3 separate regions of the Homo sapiens genome follow, and all the other regions are linked to region 2. Evidence: fine-mapped QTL for protein levels in blood plasma. A gene starts in region 2. Each other region holds a variant in brackets. All regions are shown on one strand. Distances are between the middles of the regions. Region 1 overlaps HS6ST1 (heparan sulfate 6-O-sulfotransferase 1). Region 2 holds the start of HS6ST1 (heparan sulfate 6-O-sulfotransferase 1). Region 3 overlaps HS6ST1 (heparan sulfate 6-O-sulfotransferase 1).

The links. PIP is the posterior inclusion probability: the model's chance that the variant is causal. The UK Biobank Pharma Proteomics Project read protein levels with antibody pairs (Olink). The fine-mapping took linkage between variants from a reference panel, not from the people measured, so its PIPs are less certain.
Region 1: its variant is fine-mapped to the plasma level of the HS6ST1 protein (UK Biobank, PIP above 0.99).
Region 3: its variant is fine-mapped to the plasma level of the HS6ST1 protein (UK Biobank, PIP above 0.99). The variant lies in the coding sequence of HS6ST1. If it changes the protein, the assay may bind it differently, which can mimic a change of level.

The regions. Positions count from the first base shown.
Region 1 is chr2:128,289,413-128,296,209 of GRCh38, reverse strand. All of the region lies in intron 1 of HS6ST1 (heparan sulfate 6-O-sulfotransferase 1), which reads left to right. Among named protein-coding and RNA genes, the nearest start is that of HS6ST1, 26 kb to the left of the region's middle. RefSeq lists an enhancer at 540-1,089. The variant G/A (reference allele first, on the strand shown) is at 3,430.
Region 2 is chr2:128,315,728-128,322,524 of GRCh38, reverse strand. HS6ST1 (heparan sulfate 6-O-sulfotransferase 1) reads left to right here and starts at 3,657. Exons shown (of 2, transcript NM_004807.3): 1 at 3,657-4,488. The coding sequence starts at 3,962. RefSeq lists silencers at 89-298, 339-658, 3,315-3,724, 4,419-4,648 and an enhancer at 5,650-5,799.
Region 3 is chr2:128,263,796-128,270,499 of GRCh38, reverse strand. It overlaps HS6ST1 (heparan sulfate 6-O-sulfotransferase 1), which reads left to right. Exons shown (of 2, transcript NM_004807.3): 2 at 1,630-5,020. The coding sequence ends at 2,338. Among named protein-coding and RNA genes, the nearest start is that of HS6ST1, 52 kb to the left of the region's middle. The variant C/T (reference allele first, on the strand shown) is at 1,754.

The sequences.
Region 1 (6,797 bases), 26 kb after region 2:
CTATTACAAACACTATAGCCTGGGTGGCTCAAGCAGCAAGTGTTTATTTCTCACAGTTCTTGAGACCCAAGTCCCAGATGAAGGAGCCAGCAGATGTGGAACTGGTGAGGGCTTGTTGCCTGTCTTGTATCCCCTGCATCTCCCATGGCCAAGAGAGAAGAAATCATCTCTCATGTCTTCTCTTATGAAGCCACTGGTCCCATTCATTATGGCTCCACCCTCATGACCTAATTACCTCTCAGAGTCGCCACCTCCAAATGCCATCACGTTGGAGATTAGGACTTCAACATGAGTTTTGGTGGAACACACACATTCAGTCCATAGCAATGGCCTTTATTACACTGAGGTAGTTTCCTTCTGGTTCTAGTTTGTTGAAAGTTTTTATTATGCAGGTGCATTGAATTTTGTCAAATGATGTTTCTGCATCAGTTGAGATGATCATGTGTTTTTTTCCTTCATTCTGTTAATGTGGCATACTACATTGATTTTCATATTTTGAACCATCCTTTCATTCTAGGGATAAATCTCACTTGGTCATGATACATAATCATTTTTATATGCTGTTCAATTCAATTTGCAAGTATTTTGCTGAGGATATTTTCATCAGTATTTATAAAGGACATCAGTGTGTAATTTTCTTGTTATATCTTTGTCTGGCTTTGATATCAGGATAATACTGACCTCATAGAATGAGTTAGGAAGTATTCTTTTCACTTCAGATTTTTGGAAAAGTTTGGGAAAGATTTGTGTTAGTCCCAGGAGAGCCTCTCAGGTCCCAGCATGTGCTGGGAGCCTAGTCACAAGCCCTGGCAGTCAAGGGTGTGGACACCCAGGCAGCTGCCTAGCTGTGTGGCCCTGAGCAAGGGCCTTCACCTCACTGTGCCTGACTCCTCAACTATAAACGGAGAGGAGTGGTACCCCCTGCCCTGAAGTGGAGAGAAGAATGGTACCCATTGCCCTGGAGTGAGGAGAGAACCAAATGAGCCAGTATGGGTGTGCCCAGCACAGGGGAGGCAGCAAGGATGCTGCCTGTGCCATCAGCCGGCAACATCTCACGGTGTTCACAGTAGCCCTTCAGGACAGAGGGACCCAGGGCTCAGAGGGCACTGGATCTGCGCATGGTCACTCAGTTGCTGGTTCCTCACTGGGCACATCCAGACCCCTCTGCCTTCAGACTCCTGCATTTCTGCCTTGCCACACAGGAAAACCAAGAGGGGGAGGTGGTTTGGAGTAGGTCATGGGGCCCACTGAGCCTTGGGTATCCTGGCAACTGCTTCTTATTTTCCTTGTTCCTTGGAGCCTCTCTGGGGGTGCTAGGGCTGTGTCCATGGAGAATCAGCACAAATGTGCCTGAAGGAAGGAGTTTCAGGAAGCAGGAGGCTCCAGGGCCTGCCCACCCAGGCTGACACCCCTGTACCTTGTGGGCCACAGTCAGGAAATCCCAGAGCCTGGGTGTGGGAGGGTGGTCCGAAGACCTCTTTTGTCTCCCCCTCCACACACACACACACACACACACACACACACACACACACACACACGCCTCCCTTCTTTGCGGTGGAGCCTCTTTACTGCCCAGTAGCCCACCTTCTTCTCCCAGCTCTCCAGGCCCCAGAGCACTTGTCCTCAGAGGGGCCGCAGCTCCCAGGTGGGAGTGTGACAGCGTCTCCATCCTACCTGGGCCACCAACCTATTGAAACTGGTGTCATCTTAAGGACAGCCAGCGCCTCTTGACTCTGACAGGCTGCCCCAGGGTGAACAAGTTTCTAAAGGTGGCAAGTCCCACCTACCCAGTAGACAGGCTGAGAACAAAGGAAGACCCAAGCACTAGCAAGGAGAGCCCTCCCCTCCCTCGGGGACTGCGGCACTTCATGGGCAGGGCCCGGGGCCCTCCATCACAGCCCACCCCGCCCTGTGCCCCCTCTGATGCAGTAGAGTCAGTGAATTGTCACTAGCCTGGTGCAGGCCATCCAGAGCACAGTGCCAGGGCCGGGCACAGGGCGTGTATGACAGAAGAGCCATGTGGGGTCTCAGGAGGAGGCTGTCAAGTCCAGGCTCAGAAGCTGTGATGTGAAGGACAGTGCTTCATGGAGTTTGGGGCAGGTTTCCAGCAGAGGGTCTGGGCCAGCAGGGCAGGTGCAGAGAGGAGAGGGCAGGGCCCTGCCCTCAAGGAGGTACAGAGCCAAGCCTACTGGCTTCGGGACCCACATGGTGCCCCTGTGTCCCTGCAGCGTGGTCTCAGCATGGACCCCCAACCTGTGGTGAAACCATTGCCCTGGGATGTTCAGCAGGACTGGGTCAGCTTCTGCCTGGCTCAGCATGGCCATTCCACACTTAGAGGCTGACCACAGGACTAACTGGATCCTATGTGGCCACAGACCCTGCTCACATAGCACTGGCCTTCTGAGCTGGTGGTTAATCCAACCTTCCTCATCCCCCAGAGGACCCCCAAAACAGGTGCTTGGTATAAATGTAACTCGCCTTCCTTCACTGGTGACCTGAGGCCACCTGATGGTCTCTCTTTGCCCTCTGTCCCCGTGGGCCCCAAAGAATCTGGGAGCATGTTCCTCCTCTGACTCCGGGCCCTCCAGGCCATACCAGCCCCTGGTTTTGCTAAACATCCCCCAAAGCTGTGGCCCCGGGAAGCGCCCCTCGGACCATGGTCTGCTGCTGCTCTCCTTCCAACTTCGAAGGTCCCCTCCCGTCCTGGGGTATGAGGAACAGTGGTTTCTGGGAAATCTGGAGCCACCCCAGTGTTTGCAAGGAAAGTGCCCAGCAGGTGGTGGCAGCCGCCACAGTTACTCCTCAGACTAGCTTTACTCATGGCTTTAGGGAGTGACGGTCATGCTTCATTCCAGGCCTCAAAGCCTTAGCCATTCCCAGGCCTTGCTCTGCCCAGGCCCAGGCTGGCCCTTGGGCAGGCTTATGGGGAGCCAGGCCAGAAGAGGAGAAAAGCGCCATATTGTGTGACATGCCCCTGGCTCAGAGCGGGCTGTGCCTGGGAGCGGTGCCCTTCCGCAGGAGACAGGGTGTGCGGGTGGGACGCTGGAGTGCCTGGCTGGTTTGGGCCCCACTGCATGCAGAGCAAGGCCCAGCCTTTGGGGAGGGAGGCCTGGTGTGGCGGAGCAGAGCAGGGACCAGCTCCACCAGGCCCATGGGTGGAACCACACAGGCTGTGGGCAGCGGGGGGCTGCAGCCACGGCAAGGACCCCAGACCCAGGGTGGTCTCCAGGGCTCTTTTGCAGTAGGAGTGGCAACAGAGTTGGGGAGGCTGACAAGTGGGAGGCCTGCCTAGGCTCTCCCCGACCGCTGCCTTCCCCCACACCCCATGTCTCAGGTGCCCTCCTGTGAGTCGAGCCGTCTTTTCCAGCAGGAGCCCGTCAGCTGATAGCACCCCTGCCTGCCCTTCCTGCTGCCCTTGTTCCTCTGCCC[G/A]CCCCCATGGCCTTGTGAGTCACCGCCCCTCCCCTCCGCCCCATTCCCCCCGTGCCATTTGCCCTGGCCTGCTGCACACTGAATGCCCTGAATCTGGAGCCACTGCACAGGGCACTGCCCTCCCGGCTTCCCACAGCCCTTGCTGGGCTGTCCCTGCCCACTCACATGCCCACATGCCACAGCCTCCCCGTGAGCCTGGCCGCCCTCCCTGAGGCAGGGGTGGGCCCACCACCACCCTCCACATCCTCGCCGGGATGCCTGGCTGGTTCCTTCCAGCTTCTGGGAAGCAAGGTCCCAGAGCGCCGGGGTGAGGAGCACAGTCTTCTCCAGTACGTGTCTCGCCCCGGGTTGTTCTGTGTCCAGACTGGTGTGGGCGTCCCTGCCCTGAGAAGGTGTTGGGTGGGTAGCTGGGCGTGGAACACAGGGCCCACCTTACCTCCTCAGGAGCCCAGCCACAGTTAAAGCCGCTCCAAGCCAGGGTCCTGCCAGGCGTGGGCCCTATGGAAGGATACACATGGTGTGAGCAGGCCCAGACTGCCTGGCATGGACCCTCTGGGGATCCCTCTCCCCACACCTTCACCAGGTGGTCTCTGTGGCACTGAGAGGGCCTAGAGCTGGGCAGGGCCAGGAATCCCTGGCACTCTTGCTGGGCCCAGCCCCCCCGGCCTCAGTTCACCCTCCTCACTGTTGCCCTGTGCCGCCTCCCCTGCCGGCTCCATCCAGGCCCCTCTCCTGGCATCCAGGGGCCTTCTCCTGAGCCGGACCCTTCCCCACACAGCCACCCTAGGATGGAGGAGCTTGGCAGGGTCTCCCCTGGCGTTGAGAAGAGTGTGCATTCAGAGGAGCCTGTCAGCCCTGAGCAGGGAGGGTGTTGGACGGAAGGAATGGAGGGCAAGAAGCACCTATAGGGAAGCCTGTGTATGCCCTTGGGGAAGAGCCTGTGGACAGATGCCCGCCGGCGCCCCTGCACAGCTGTTAGCCACATCCTTGCTGGGTTGCCTCCGTGAGGTCTGTCCAGGGCCTCCCCGTGGAAAGAGGAGGGGCCAAGTGATGGAAAGCAGCAGGACTGGTATGAGGCAACAAGAGCCCCAGGCTGGAGAGGCCAGGCCAGGTGAGGCACACAGCCTGTGCCCTGGCTCCCTTGAGGTCCACCTTGCCCCAGGCATGGCGTCAGCCTGTGGAGGACCCAGGTCCTGCAGCCAGGGGCTCTCCCTCAGGCCCTGGTGAGCTCATTTAGAAGCCAGCTGCTCCCGCTGACGCACCTTCTGAGCTCACCCAGTGCCTGGGGCCCTCCCTGCCAGAGGTCTAGCCCCCAAGAGACACAGTGAGGATCCAGACTGAGGAGGCTAATGCTTCCTTCTGCTGCTCCAGTGCCATGGCCGCCCCAAACCTCCAGGACTCACACCTCACTGAGCGCAAACCCACAGCCTTAACTATGGGGTGCTCTGGACCCAGGGCAAGGGCAGTGGGCAAGAAAAGTAGCCCTCCCCCATGCCGGGACTCCGGCTGTCTGAGAGGGTGTGTGAAGCCCCCAGCCTAGTAATGCCTGCACGGGGTACTCACTAAAGACAAGAAGGACAGGCAAGGGGACTCTACTGGGACAGTTAGGTCCCTAGTTCCTCCTTGTTTTATTGTGTCAGCTGAGATCCCCAGTACATGCAGAATTGCCTTAGAGAGAGTGGACATCTTTGTCTTATTCATGATCTTAGAGGGAATGCATCTGACTCTTCCCCATGGGGACCATGCTTGCTCTAGGTTTTGGGGATACTTTATCAAATTAAGGAACTTTTTTTTTTAATTTGAGACAGTTTCACTCTTTTGCCCAGGCTGGAGTGCTATGACACGATCTCCGCTCACTGCAACCTCCACTTCCTGGGTTCAAGTGATTCTTACGCCTCAGCCTCTTTATAGGTGCGTGCCATCATGCATGCTAAATTTTTTTTTTTTTTTTTTTTTTTTTTTTGTATTTTTAGTAGAGACGGTGTTTCGCCATGTTGGCAAGGCTGGTCTTGAACTCCTGACCTCAAGTCATCCACCTGCCTCAGCCTCCCAAAGTGCTGGGATTACAAGTGTGAGCTACCACGCCTGGCCAAATTAAGGGACTTCTATTCCTAGTTTCCTGAGAGTTTTTATTATGAATAGTGTTTTTAGCAGATGCTTCTTACACATTTACTGAGCTCTGTAGTCTGTTGCTGTGATGAGTCACATGTATGGATTTTCTCCTGTTAAGCCATCCTTGCATACCTGGGGTTACTAAGTATGGTCGTAGTGTAATATCTTTTATATGCTCAATTGGGTTGGATTTGATAAGATTTTTGTTGAGGAATTTTTGTATCTATATTTGAACTCTGAGCTTAGCAGATGTGTCCACCAGGCTGCAATTTTCCTCTCTTGTGCATTTGTCCAACTTCGGTATTAGGATTATGTTGGCCTCATAGAATGAATTGGGAGTGTCCACTGCTTTACTCTTGTCTAGGAGGGTTTGCTTACAAAAATCTGGTTCTTTTAAAATTTGGTAGAAATAGCCCAGCACTTTCTTTGTAGGAATTTTACCCCTAACTTTTTATCTTGAAAAATGTCAAACTTACAAAGTCGTTGAAATGGTAGTAAAGTGAACCTCATACCTTTCACCGAGACCCACTGCTTGTTAACATTTTGCAATATTTGTGCTTGTGAGTGGGTGCTCTCACTTGCTGTTTACATATATGTATATCTGTAGATACATGTGTACTTACATGTATATTTATATATGTAGTTATATACATGCTTTTGCATTTTAGTAGAATCATTTGAATGTAAGCTGCAGGCATTTCCTCAATATTTTAGGAAGATTTTAAACTACTGCTTTGATTTTTGCTTTTTGAGATTATCGGGCTATTTGTGACTTATATTTGGACATTTTATACAAATAATTTGACTGACAGCTATCCTCTCTCTATCTCTTACATGTTCTCCTGGTGCCTCTGGCCTGTGGTTGGTGAAAGCAGGTAGGTCTGTTCCGGCAGCTTCCTCTCTTTCCCTGCCAGCTGGGGTGGGCCCATCCTCATGCCGAGCGTCATGCTGTGACCTCCAGGAGGCATATTGTCTTGTTTTGTGCAAGGAGGAAACAGATGACAGATGCATTCCTTGGGGAACTCGTCAGGGCCACACAGCTGCTGGATGGCAGATCCCTTAGCAAGCTGGAGACCTGTTTTCTGGTGCTGCCAATGGCGCGCCGGGTTCTCCTGGGAGCTTCGTGCTGCTCATCTCAGGGACCGTGCACGTGGGTGAGCAGCAGACATGCCTTGTGGCCTATGAAGTCAGACACCTCTGGTATCTGGGAGACTTTGGCTGCAGAAGGATCTCTGAGTCTCCATTTGCCCATCTGC
Region 2 (6,797 bases):
CGAACCGAACCGCAGGACCCCTGCTGTCCCCGGGCAGCGGCCGGAGCGCGTCCCTCGGGTCCTGGGAAGACCTGCCGCGTCTGCGGGCTGCCTGGGAGCCCAGGCGCCCCGCGGTGCTGGGGGAGGAGCCCGGCACGGGGCCGCTGGGCGGCAAAGGGGCCGCGGGCTCCCTGGAGGAGGCGGCTGCGGACGGGGCCTGGCGACCTCGGAGAAGGTGGCGTCCACGGCGCGCAGCCCGGCGCCCCAAGCCTGCCGCCGGGTCGGGGTCGGGGCCGGGGCCGGGCCCCGCGGGTCCGCGCGAGCCGGAGTCCCCTCTAAAAGTTTGTCCCCAAACGAAACCCCTCTCTCTGCCCCGCGTGGGCAGCGGGGCCAGCCCCACGGGAGGCTCTGAGGACAGACACGACTGCCCTCCTCCACCCCTTGGCAAACAACAATGGGCGGCCGCCGGACGAACGACGAGGGAAGCGAGTGTGGAAAATCCCCCAATTTTTTGCAAAGTCAACCGCGGGCGCTCGGGGGCCGGGCCGCGTGCTGCCCCCGCGCGGCCGTCCGCGGGACTGTGCGCCGGGAGGGGGCGCCGCTGTTGATCTCGTGGTTCTCAGACTCTGAGACCGCACGGTGGGCCGGGAATGAGGCTTCATTCCTGAAGCCGAATGTTAATGCCTCTTCTGGGATCATCACAGCCTGCCACTAAGCCGTGTTCTTTTACTTTTCTTTGCCATTAAGTCAGAGATCACGCATTAAAGAATTGGTGAAGTGGATCTTCAGGGGACAAAGCCACTGAGCAGAAGAGCTGCCAGTGCTTTTCCTTGGACCCCACAAGCAGTCAGGGCCAGAAGCTGCCCCTAGCAAACACTTAGCTCATATGCACTCTCGGGGCTGGGGCAAACCTTGGCCACGCAGGAGATCACCCAGGGAAGAAAGGAAACAGCGCGCAGAGCGCGCCTCCTGAGACCCTGGCTGTGTCCGCTGACCTCCTGGAACCCCACGCCAGCCCCAGACTGTGCGTTTCTATCCATTTTCCAAGACATGACACTGAGGACTCATCGCGGGGAGTAGCGGGAAGTGGTGGGGAGTAGCGTGATGCAAGCTGCCCCGCCAACGAGGGCTCGAGCTGCCTTCCACTCGGCTCAAGTGTCCACTGATTGATGGGTGGCTCATCTGACTTGACTTTCAGAGCCCAGAAACTCACCTACAGCCTTAGGGTCTCAGGTGCCTGTGCAGGGCTTCAATCAAAGTGGAAGACTGAGCAAAGTCCTGTAGCCAGCCAGGCAGATTTCCCTCCTCTTAAAAGAATTCTAGAAAGAAAGGGCTTCCTGGCTAATGTGAGTGCTTCCCATCAGCCAGTGTGGCAGGTATGAAGTTGGATTAAATAGCTTGTTCTGGGAGATGTTGCTCCATGGGTCAGGCTGCTCTGGCTCCCATTCAAGGGTGGGACCTTATCACAGGCACTTCGTCCCTGCCTGGGCCTCAGTTTCCCCCTTGGGACAGTGAGATCATCACAGGGTGGAGCCATGGCCCAAGTACCGATGGCTTCGTTGGCCTTCGGAGCTGCTCCAGCTTTCCCTTGAACACTCTGGGCCCACGTTCCCCCTTGGTGGCAGTGACGGTCACCAGGCTCTCAGGAGTGGCCCCTGTAGACGCTCTCATCCCTGGCCTAGGGAGCTGGGGCAAGTGCAGAGGTGGGGAAGGGGAGGGTTCTGGGGCTCACAGCAGGAATCAGGATCCCAGCTCTGCTGACTCTCATGGGGTGAGAGTGGTTGACCTTGGAACCAGGGTCTTAACCCCTTTGAACCTCAGTTTTCTCTTCTGTAAATGGATATCACAGCCTACCCCCGCAGATTTGCTGATGGAATTGGAAATGACACCTCTACAATGCCTGGCACCCAGCAGGTCTCCAAAAGAGCAGCCTTAATTATGATGTAGCACGAGGATCCTTATCTGGGTAAGGACATCTGGGGGGTGGACCCGGGGCAGCTGTGCTCCCCTAGGCCACACAGGAAGGCTCCCCAGGGCTCAGGCACAGACTGCGTCAAGGGGCTGCAGGCAGGTCCAAGCACACTGCAGGGCGGCCCCACCTGTGTCCCATGGGGACTGCACCCCCACTCCTATAGGAATGAGTCACTTCTGGAGAAGCTTGTCCAAGCTGCCCCCAGGACCCTCGGGCCAGGGACAGTTTTAAAGCAGCCTACAAGATGAGCAGGGGCTTTGGGGCCCTAGGTCCCACTGAGGACCCCACACCATGGACTCCAGGGTGCGCTGGGCTGTGTTGAGGGTTCTGCACCCGCCTGTCCACAGCGGATATTCTTGCGGTCCCTTTGGAAAATGCATGCCGCCCGCTCAGCTGGGTTTGGGGTGTTGGTTTTTCCAGCTCTCTGGGTTTGCTTCCAGGAGGGCTTTCTGGTGTGATGTTGTCTACGTTTAACAGCTTTACTGAGGCATAATTGACACCCCATGATCGCTTCCGGTCCCTAACAGAACGGAAGGCAGGGCACCACCCCGCCTCCCCCCCCACCCCGTCCCCGGCAGGGCTTGACGTGGACACTGGGAGCCCACGCCTGGCAGCCAGACTCGCTCCCAGAGCCCTCGCTGGCCTGAACCAACACACTAGGGCCCACCGCGGCCGGCCCTGCAGCTGTGAGATCCTGGCAGGTCCCAGCCCCACTCCTGCGCTTCCGACGGGCTGCAGCCTCCGAGTACTGCCAGAGCCCAAGCAGTGTGAGTGGGCACCTGGCGGGACCCCCCGCCCCACGAATGCCGCGCGTGCTTGCCAGGCTGGGCGGCGGCGAGTGAGGAGCCCGCACCACCCGGCCCACACACGAGCCAACGTGGAGCGAGCCCTCCGCAGCCAGGTTGGGCCCGGGCCGCTGGACTCTCCAACCAACCCACGAAAGACAGAATATTTGGTGGGCACTCACGATTCTTAAGAATTGGCTCAATGTTTTATAACTCTTTCATTGGAGTATAATAAACATGGATGGGGGAAAATGCACCTCGTCTGATATTCTTTTCAAACAAGGAGGAAGCCATAAAGCCGCTCCGCAGGCCTCTGCAGACAGCCCAACATCTCTTCAATGCGGGGCTGCGGGGCACTGTCCCAAAGCCAGCCGCAGGGGTGAGGGGGTCGAGCAGGAAAGGAAAGCCTCGCTTTCCCTCTCGGTCCTGGTGGTGGGCGGCCCCCGCCGCCCTGGTCCCTGGAAGTGCAGCCCAGTAGGCTAGCGTCTAACTTCAGCGCCCCAGCGTGCAAGGTCAAGGCCTTTCCTCCCGCGCGGGCTGCGGGGACGTGGGCGGCTGGGACTTGGGGAGGAGGGGGTACGGACCCAGGCTCCAGAAGCGCCAGCCGCCGCGCCCCCTCACCGCGGCCCCCGCCAGGAGAGCCTCCCACGCCTCGGCTCCGCACTGCCGGTTGGTCCCCCACTCCCCTGAGGGCGGAATCACTTCCCAGTCGCTGGCTGCCCGCCTGCTAGCGGCCTCGCCACCGCAGCAGACCCAGGTCCCGCGCCCAGCACCCGCGGCGAACCCCGGCACTCCGGAGGCGGGGCCGAGGATCGGCGCGGGCGGCGACGGCAAGAGACGCCACGGGGGCGGGCCAGGGGCGGACCGGGGCGGGGCGGCGGCGGCGGACTGCGGAGACGCGGCGGCGCGCGGGGCGGCGCAGAGCGTTCTCGGCGCGGAGTGGAGCGGAGCGGGCTGGTGCTGGGGGCGCGGAGAGCGCTGTGCTGGCCGGGGCCGGGAGCGGGGCCGAGCGGGAGCGGAGTCGGGCGTCGGGCCCGGGGAGCCGGGGCCGGGCGGGGAGCAGCCATGGCACCGCGGAGGGTCGGGGCCCGCGCCGCTGCGGGCGGCCTGGGCGCCGAGTAGCCGGGCCGGGCCGGAGCGCGGGCGGCGGCGGAGGCAGCTGCGCCCGCGCCTCCTGCCCTCCCAGGCCCCGCGCCCCGCGCCCGGGCCCCGGCGATGGTGACACATGCGGCGGCGGCGCGCCGGCGGCAGGACCATGGTTGAGCGCGCCAGCAAGTTCGTGCTGGTGGTGGCGGGCTCGGTGTGCTTCATGCTCATCTTGTACCAGTACGCGGGCCCAGGACTGAGCCTGGGCGCGCCCGGCGGCCGCGCGCCGCCCGACGACCTGGACCTGTTCCCCACACCCGACCCCCACTACGAGAAGAAGTACTACTTCCCGGTCCGCGAGCTGGAGCGCTCGCTGCGCTTCGACATGAAGGGCGACGACGTGATCGTCTTCCTGCACATCCAGAAGACGGGCGGCACCACCTTCGGCCGCCACCTCGTGCAGAACGTACGCCTCGAGGTGCCGTGCGACTGCCGGCCCGGCCAGAAGAAGTGCACCTGCTACCGGCCCAACCGCCGCGAGACTTGGCTCTTCTCCCGCTTCTCCACCGGCTGGAGCTGCGGGCTGCACGCCGACTGGACCGAGCTCACCAACTGCGTGCCCGGCGTGCTGGACCGCCGCGACTCCGCCGCGCTGCGCACGCCCAGGTGAGCGCCCGGGCGGCGGGATCCTCGCGCAGCTGCGCCCCCGAGGCCGGGCCGTATGCCCGCCGTGCTGTACTGGGTCGGCCCTGCCTTCCCTACCCCCTTCTGCCCTCTTGGGGGCCCCCACTCGCCGGCACCCCTCCCGACCTGCCGAGCGCCCGAGGCTCCCAGCTCCTCTGGGTGAGCCGGCTGTCACCGCGCTTTCTGACCTCGCTCTCACTCTCTTCCTTGCCTTGTGCTGCCCTACTGCCGGCTTGACTGCGCAGCGCCCGGGTTTTCTCCAGGGTCCCCGCCCGCTGCCCTCGGGCCACCTTACCTGCTGTGCGCCGTGAGGTCTGGCCCGCCGGACTTGGGGACGCGGGCTTCTGGGTGTGTGCGTGGCCTACCTGGAGTGTTGGCTTCCCCGTGCCGCTTCGGTGCTGTGGTCCCAAAAGTGGAAGTGAGAGTAGTGAGGTGCCGCCCCTGTGCCTGGAGTGCCTGCCTTCAGAGGGTGGGGGAGCTGCCAGGGAAGGGGGCTGGCTCTGCCCGCCTGCCTGCCGGTGTGTGCAGGTAGAACAAAGGCCCTGTTGACCTGGGGCTGGGGGCGGGGAGGAGGCAGTACCGCCTGTCCTCCCAGTGGGGCCTGCCAGCCGAATTCTTCCAGGCACAGGCTTGCCTGGAGAGAGGAACAAAAGCCACCCGATGGGGGACCACCTTCCCCAGGAAGCTACCAGCCAGGTTGGGGGTAGTTGAGCTGGTCCAGGGAACCTGTGCTGCCACACCCCTTCTCTGGGGTCCCCCAGCCCCATGTCAGAGCTGAGCTGCGTGAGGACACAGAGCATGGGAGGGGTGCCGGGGCAGCTCTTCTGGGAAGCCGTTTGTAGGGGAACCTGGGGTGCTGCTGGGTTTCCAGCAGTTAAAGTTGGGGTTATTTTCCTCCTGTTCCTGTTGGTGCCCATTCGTCCTGCAGGGATGCCCTGCGGGGCCTTTCTCCCCAAAGTCTGGGCTGGGAAGGGCCAGGAGCAGGGCTTCTTGTCTGCCTTTTGTTTCTCTTCCAAATTTGCCTTAGGACTGAATTTGCAGACAGGCTGGTGGTAGGAGGCTGGGCGGTTGTAGGCGTGTTGGCTGGCACTCTTGGGTCCAGAGGCTGTAGGCTCTCAGGTGTGCCTGGGGAGCCTGGAAGGTCCAGCCAGCCTGGAGCTGAGCAGAGTCCGAGACACTGCTCCCCTGCACAGACCTCAATCCTTGCTCTGTGGTCTTTCTCAGGCTGTCAGGAAATTGGGGTCCTAGAGTTGGAGGGGCATCTTCCCACTTTTCTTTCTCCCCCCTCCCCCAACTGTACACACACACACCCACACACACACACACACTGCAGCTCCCAGCCTGGGAGGTGATGTTCTGAGCCTCTTACAGCCACATTCTACACTTGGCGGTCACAGAGCTGCCTGTCTAGGGCCCCTGAAGGATTGCTTCCGGCCCAGCACTTAGTCTGCTCTGCACAGATGCACGTTCCTGCTGCAGGGCCCCCCTAACCCTGGTCCAGCTTCTCTGTGCTAGGCTCAGCTGTGCCTGGGACCACAGCCATGCCCCCACCCACCCTTCCACCAGTCAGAGCAGTAGGCTCCCAGAGTTGGTCACTGACCAATACCAACAGACGCCTCCCTACCTGTGGGGGGTGCAAGGATGGGGGTCACCCCCTTTGCCAGAGGGACTTAGCTCGGCAGCCTAAGAGGATTGCGTGGAAGCTTCGGGCCGCCAAGAAGCCGGAGCTTTTGAAACAAGCCTGCTCAGCAGAGGCCACCTCAGCCCTAGATTGCAACCAGGATGCTCTTCCTGCAGCCCCGCACGCCTGTGGGTCCCCAGGGTGAAGAGCCTTGGCCTCCTTTCTCTGGAGTTTGTCCATGAGAGTGGGAGGACCAGGTGGGGCCGATGGGGCCCCAGGTGCTACACCAGGAAGGCCCGGCTCCCCCTGCCCAGGGAGCATGTGTGGAGCAAGAATGGAAAACGCAGATGCCTCTGGCGGAGGTGGGCTGCCAGCCTGGAAATTGCTAGCTCAGCAGCATGCGCCAGGGTTGGGAGGGGCTTCCAGGGCCGTCAGGAGGCCCCCTCTGCCACCCACTCTGGAAGTGGGTTGTGCTACCGGGCAGGTGACAGCACCCCACCCTCCGAGTCCCTCTTCTCCGCCTCCACTCCCTTCAGTTCTGTTGCAGGCACTAGGTAGATTGCTTTTTTAATGAGCTTCATCAGGAGGCCAAGGTAATCTTGCCTTTGTGCTCGCAGGGCCAAGCTGCACTGAGGTCCACCTGCTGAGCGCTGCCCCGCCACCTGAGTCT
Region 3 (6,704 bases), 52 kb after region 2:
CTGGCCCTTGAGGCCCCGAGTGCCCAGGAGCTGCTGCCATCAGCATGGATGGGTGGTACCAGGCAGGCTGTGGGTGCAGGGTGCTTGGGGAGGGCCAGGTGTGCCTTGGGACGTGTGAAGTGGGAGCCTGGAGCAGGGAAACTGAGGCCTGCTCTCGCCCCTGCTGCCCACAGCTTATCTGCCCCCTGGAGACCAGCCGTGCCTGACCCTGGGGTCGTCAGCTCAGTCCTGCTGGGTCCTTCCTCCACCCCATCTGCTGAGAGCTCCTCCAGGGCAGGGTCTGAGCCTGCCAGGCCACAGAAAACACTGGGCGGATGACAGCTGCCTGTCCCTTCCTCGGCAGTCTGCATGCAGTAGTGCTGGCCTTGCTGCCTGCCCCTGGAGCCATCACTGGCTACCCCGCCTGCTTCAGAGCTGCCACCCCTGGGGCTTTCTGACATGTCCTCATAGGCGGGGGTGGCCTGCAGTGGCACCGCACCACTTGCCAGGCACTGTGCCTCCCTCCCTGCAGGGAGGTGTGCGGTCAGATCAGGCAGTTGCCAGCGGACACCAAGAAGCGCTTTGTGCTCCCCGGGGTCCCTCCATGCCCCCCACCCCCACCCCTGCCCAGGGCAGTGTGAGGGGAGGAGGGGAGCAGTGTGGGTACACTTCCATGTTGCCATCTGGGGAATCCTGGCGGGGGGTCAGGGCCCTTCTGGAGCTGCTCCCCCGGGCAGTGAGGGGCCCTGTGGGCTCCTAGGCTGCCTGCCTGGCCCTGGTTCTACTTGGCCTGAAGCCCACCCACCCCAGCGTGGACAGGAGCCAGGAGGAGGAGCCCTCTAAGAATGACTGCAGCCTCTCCCGGGGCTGAGCCCACACACACACACCGGGCATATCCACAGCCGCCACCACGTTTTACCCACCTGTCCAGTGTCCTGACGCCTCCAGCCCAGCGTCATAGCGAGCCTGGCAAGGACATGCTTCATGCTGGGCTCCTGCCGCGCAGGGGAGGGTGGGAGGTGGAGTCTTCCTTGGGTCGTTTCTCCCTTGTGCACGCACCGTTACATACTGTGCAATGCGTTGGTGTCTTGGGGGACAACCCAGCAAGTAGAGTTGGTGTATACGTCATGGCTTCCTCTGGGGTCCTGGGCTGGCTGGTCCGCTGGGCACCCCCCCCCCAACCACCACCAGGCCTTGGCAGGACCCTGGGACTGGGACTGGAGGTGACCCTCGCTGGCCCCTGCCCACCTTCTGTTCCTGCTGAGTGGCTCTTTGGGTGGCACCATGCCCAGGCTGTAAACAGCTGGTGAAGACTGCTGGCCTCAGGCGGCTGTGGCTCTGCGACTTCTCTGGATGCGGTATTGGTGGCTCCACCCACCAGCAGGAAAAAGTCAGGTTGTCCCTCCAGAGGAGCCAGGCCAGGCGCTGCAGGGCACTGTGGTGGTCATCCTGGGTAGCCATGTGACCGTGGCATGCTCCTTGGCATCTCTGATACCGGGTTTTGAAACGACTGAGAGCTAAGTGCAGGAGTTGGTTGGCATTAGAGGCGAAGCCCAAACTCCTGTAGTGGGGACTTTGACTCAGAGCAGCCCTGGTAGCCCCCCTCATGCTGCGTCACAGCCCTCACCTCCTCTCCCCGTCTCCTTGCAGGAAGTTCTACTACATCACCCTGCTACGAGACCCCGTGTCCCGCTACCTGAGCGAGTGGCGGCATGTGCAGAGGGGTGCCACGTGGAAGACGTCGTTGCATATGTGTGATGGGCGCACGCCCACG[C/T]CTGAGGAGCTGCCGCCCTGCTACGAGGGCACGGACTGGTCGGGCTGCACGCTACAGGAGTTCATGGACTGCCCGTACAACCTGGCCAACAACCGCCAGGTGCGCATGCTGGCCGACCTGAGCCTGGTGGGCTGCTACAACCTGTCCTTCATCCCCGAGGGCAAGCGGGCCCAGCTGCTGCTCGAGAGCGCCAAGAAGAACCTGCGGGGCATGGCCTTCTTCGGCCTGACCGAGTTCCAGCGCAAGACGCAGTACCTGTTCGAGCGGACGTTCAACCTCAAGTTCATCCGGCCCTTCATGCAGTACAATAGCACGCGGGCGGGCGGCGTGGAGGTGGATGAAGACACCATCCGGCGCATCGAGGAGCTCAACGACCTGGACATGCAGCTGTACGACTACGCCAAGGACCTCTTCCAGCAGCGCTACCAGTACAAGCGGCAGCTGGAGCGCAGGGAGCAGCGCCTGAGGAGCCGCGAGGAGCGTCTGCTGCACCGGGCCAAGGAGGCACTGCCGCGGGAGGATGCCGACGAGCCGGGCCGCGTGCCCACCGAGGACTACATGAGCCACATCATTGAGAAGTGGTAGTGGCGGTGGTGGCCACGGGGAGGCCTCTTGGGGGGTGTGGGGGATAAAACAGGACAGACGACAGGTCCACCCAAGACTGTCAAGGGATGAGCATCCCAAACCTGCTCCACAGAGGTAGCTGCGTCCTGAAAAAAAACAGAGCAGGGATGTAGTGGGGCTGGGCAGGGATGGGGGCTTGAGAAATCAACAGGTGCAGCCCAGTGGGTCAGAGGAAAGCGTGCTCGAAGGATGCCATGGTCAGGGCAGGGCCTCCAGAGCAGGTGTTGTGCCTGGAGCTGCTCTCCTGGCCTCCTTGGATTTATCGCAAAAACTGAAGGTTTGCGCAAGAGACGAGGACAGCGGAAAGTGGACCTGCCAGGCCGGGAGTGTGTCCCTCACCAACTATGCACACAGCACTCGCTCTTAGCTCCTCTGTCCGGGCTACTAGGAGTGAGACCAGCTTCTGGCAACTGCCCCAGCTCCAGGCCATCCCATAGCCCCTCCTCTTCTGGCTGCCCCCAATGCCCCGAGGCCTGGGGAGCCCCCAGCTCACCCATCTGTAGCTCCCTCAAAGTCAGGGCCCACCCCATCTGAGGCAGAGAAGACTCGAGTCCAGCCCCCAGGAAGCCTGCTCCCCTCTCTGGCCCATGGTCCTGCTTCATGCTTTGGGTCAGGAGGCCAAAGCTGATGTTCAGGCCCCACCCACTCCCTACAGTCCTCAGACCAAGGAGGGGTTTGGGTAGTAGGCCCGAGCTGCATTGCCGGCCTTCCTCGGGCCAACTGGCAGCCCAGGAGTGGGGAGGCTTTGGCCAGGGATGCTGCCACTTGTGCGTGAGTCCGCGGCTGGCCCTTGGAGGTGACCATCCAGGCAGGCCTGGCTCAGACTGGAAGGGCTGGGGACCGAGGGCTCCCCTGCCTCTGTTCTCCTTTCTGACCCACTGGGATTTGCTAGCAGGCTGCCCCAGCCCCATCACCGAAACACATACTCAAGAGCTCAAATACCACTGCTCCCACCAGCGTACGGATTAAGTTCATCAGGCTTCCATCGGCTGGAGCATGGGACCATAGCCCCTGCCCAGGAGCCGTACCCTCGGACCACAGTGGCTCTGTATGGCCAGGAACTGGGACTCGAGCTTTCAGATTCTCAACTAGCCTTGGCAAAACAGCTGTAGGTGGCCTCCCTGACAACAGACACTCAGCCCTCCCCACCCTGGCTCTCCTTGCATTTCCCCATGCTCCCCACCCCCTGGCAAAAGGCTGGCCATGCTCTGTTCCCAGCAGCCGCGCAGGTTTCCCCACTGGCTGCAATGGCCCTACCAAAAGCCATGTTGCATATCCGTTGTAAGCACGTGCCCTGTGCCCTGTCCCCATTCCTTATGCCCTAGGAGGCCAAGCTGGTGTCTCTAGGAGGGCCCACACAGGCACCCTGGATCCCCCAGAGAGTAGATTGGTGTGCTCAGGCCGCAGGCTGACTCAGAGGTAGGGCAGTGGGCTCTGCAGGCCACCTGGCTGGGGTTGGTGGGGGTCCTCTCTCCTGCCCCAGCTTCCACTCAGCCACCACAGTTGCCACACCATGGGGTGGAGACGTGGGTCACCACGGGCTTGGGAGCAAGCGCCTTCTGCAGCACAGGAAGCCGAAGCTGGGGTCAGGTGAGGTCGCTACCCCTGGAGGTCTGGCATAAGGGCCCCACCCTCAGGTCTCCTACACTGGCCCCATTTTACTTTGGGGTCCAAGGACAGGATGGTCAACAGGGCAGGGTGGACAGCGTGCCAGCGCCGCGCAGGGCCACCTCCCTGGGTGGATGCATCACACTAAGGAAGTGAGTGCCAAGGGGATTTAGTGGTGTGGTTCTTTCAAAGGGAGGTCAGGGTCAATGGGAATCTGCTCGGACACTCAACATGGGGGTGGGTGCACTCCTTGGAGGAGGAGGAACACGTTCAGGGGATTGTGAGGTCTTGCACAAGCCACGTGGGGCACCTTGGCTTCCCGGCAGGAGGTGGACACCCAGCCAGAGGCCTGGCTCAAGGTGACCTCACCTTCACCATGGGCTTCCTGGGTGCGCGGGCCTGAGCGCAGGTTGTTTTGTACATATTGGAATATGTGTTAACTTATGCCCCGCATCCCAACTCACACGGAAGCACGGGTCTTGTCTCAGTCTCTTCGCTGCATTTGGAAAGCAGTCTCCTCTCGGGCCAGCGCCGGGCTGAGGTGTCCAGAGGCGGCGGCAGCTGGCAGTGCCCTCAGCCCCCAAGTGTCCAGCCTGGCACTTCCCATTCAGGCCACCTGCTTTGGGTCAACAGTTCCTTTGCCAGCAGCATCTCCTAAATTGTAAGGACTCTGTCCACCGGGGCCCTCCCAGGGCTGTGAGGACGGAAACAGGCAGGGAGTGGAGCTAACAGCTTAGTCACCAGGACCCCCAGACCTGCAAACGTCCCCTCCTGGAAGGGGAAGCCAGGAACAGCAGAACTGCCCACAAAACAAGGCTGTGAACTTTTCGGGAACTGGAACTGTTTAACTTGAACCCAGGATTGTTTAAAGCTTTATTTATTTATAGCTTCTTCTTAAAAAAAAGTGTTGAAGAAATTTTTTGGTTATTCATACAAAAAAATGAGTTGATGATGGAAAAGCAAGTCATAATCATCTAATTGTTTTTGTCTAGGTCGAGAATGAATGTTAGCTGATGAAATAAACCCTGACAAGGAGTGGCGGGTGTGCTGTGGTCTCTGCGGGCATAGCTGCCCCTCCCAGTGGGGTCTCACACCACGTCCCAAGGGCGGGGTGCTTTGCACAGGTGCAGGAGGCTCAGTGAGGAAAGTCCCATTAAGTAAGGCATTCTGAAAGAAAAAATGGGACTTTGTCATCACCATAAAGAGTAACCGTTTATTAATCATTAGTGATAGTATTTGGGAAGATGACACCAGTTGAGAGGGAGGCAGGTGCCACTGAGTTACATTCTCATTAACCTCTTCCCTCCCTGTCTTTGGAAATTTTGAAAGATTTCAAATGACAAAGAGAGTGGAGGAATAGTTCATGGACACCCACATGCTCTTGGCCTAAATTTTTCACCTTCTCTTATCCTGTGCCCACACTTTCTCATACACGCACACACGCGCGCTTTTCTGAAACATCTGAAAGTAGGTTGTGATCATCAGAATACTGCACTCCTAAATCCATCAGCTCGTGTCTCCTAAGGACGTTCTGCCACAAAACTCAACCCTGTTATCCCAGCCCCCCCCCCAGATTTTATAACAATACAGTATTTTCCAATATCCAGATCTTCTGGTTGTCCTAGAGATGTCTTCAGAGCATTTTGTAGCCCCAGGACCACACGGTGCCCCATGTGCCTCTCCTGTCTCCTTGAATGGAGGAGAGGGTCCCAGCTACCCCTTCTTTTTTCCGTCTTTCTTAGGATTGACATATTTGACTAGTAGAGACCAGTTGTCTTAAAAGGTCTGCTGATGTTGGCCGGGCGTGGTGGCTCACACCTGTAATCCCAGCACTTGGGGAGGCTGAGGCGGGCGGATCACGAGGTCAGGAGATCGAGACCATCCTGGCTAACGCGGTGAAACCCCGTCTCTACTAAAAATACAAAAAATTAGCCGGGCTTGGTGGCGGGCACCTGTAGCCTCAGCTACTCAGGAGGCTGAGGCAGGAGAATGGCATGAACCCGGGAGGCAGAGCTTGCAGTGAGCTGAGATTGCGCCACTGCACTCCAGCCTGGGCAACAGAGCAAGATTCCTAAAAAAAAAAAAAAGAAAAAAAAGAAAAAAAACTACAGATGTCAGTTTCCTAGTGGTCAGATTCGGTGAAATTGGGTAGGAAGGCCCTCGGGTGAGGCACCTTCCATCAGCCCAGGTGTCCTGTGGCTCTGTTCCCCAGATGAGGGAAGTCCAGCCTCCCCACTCAGCCCCTGGGGAAACCCAGCCATAGTGGTCACCTGCCAGCTCATACCTGCCACCATCCCAGTGACAAAGGTCACCAGGGTGTTTCTGGGAGGGTCACGGCTTCTACCTGCCACCATCCCAGTGACAAAGGTCATCAAGGTGTTTCTGGGAGGGTCACGGCACAAGTAGGGCAGGAGTCAGAACGTAGCTGCCTTCTTAAAACCCCAGTCTCAGACTCCACGTCAACACCTGCTCATGCCTAGGTAGAGTGCGGAAGGGAGGAGCAGAGGCCAGACGCCAAGAGGAACTCCCGAGTCCTTCCTGGACACTTCATGCGGAGGTTTATTTGGGGTGTGGACCAGCCCTCAGCCTGGCTTCTCCCTCGGGGGAGCCAAGATGGAAGCTTCCTCCACCTTCTGATAGTACCACTGGACTCTGTAGGGCCAGTGTCATGATCAAAGGTGAAATCAGACCTGAAAATACCTCACCCAGAATGGGGGTT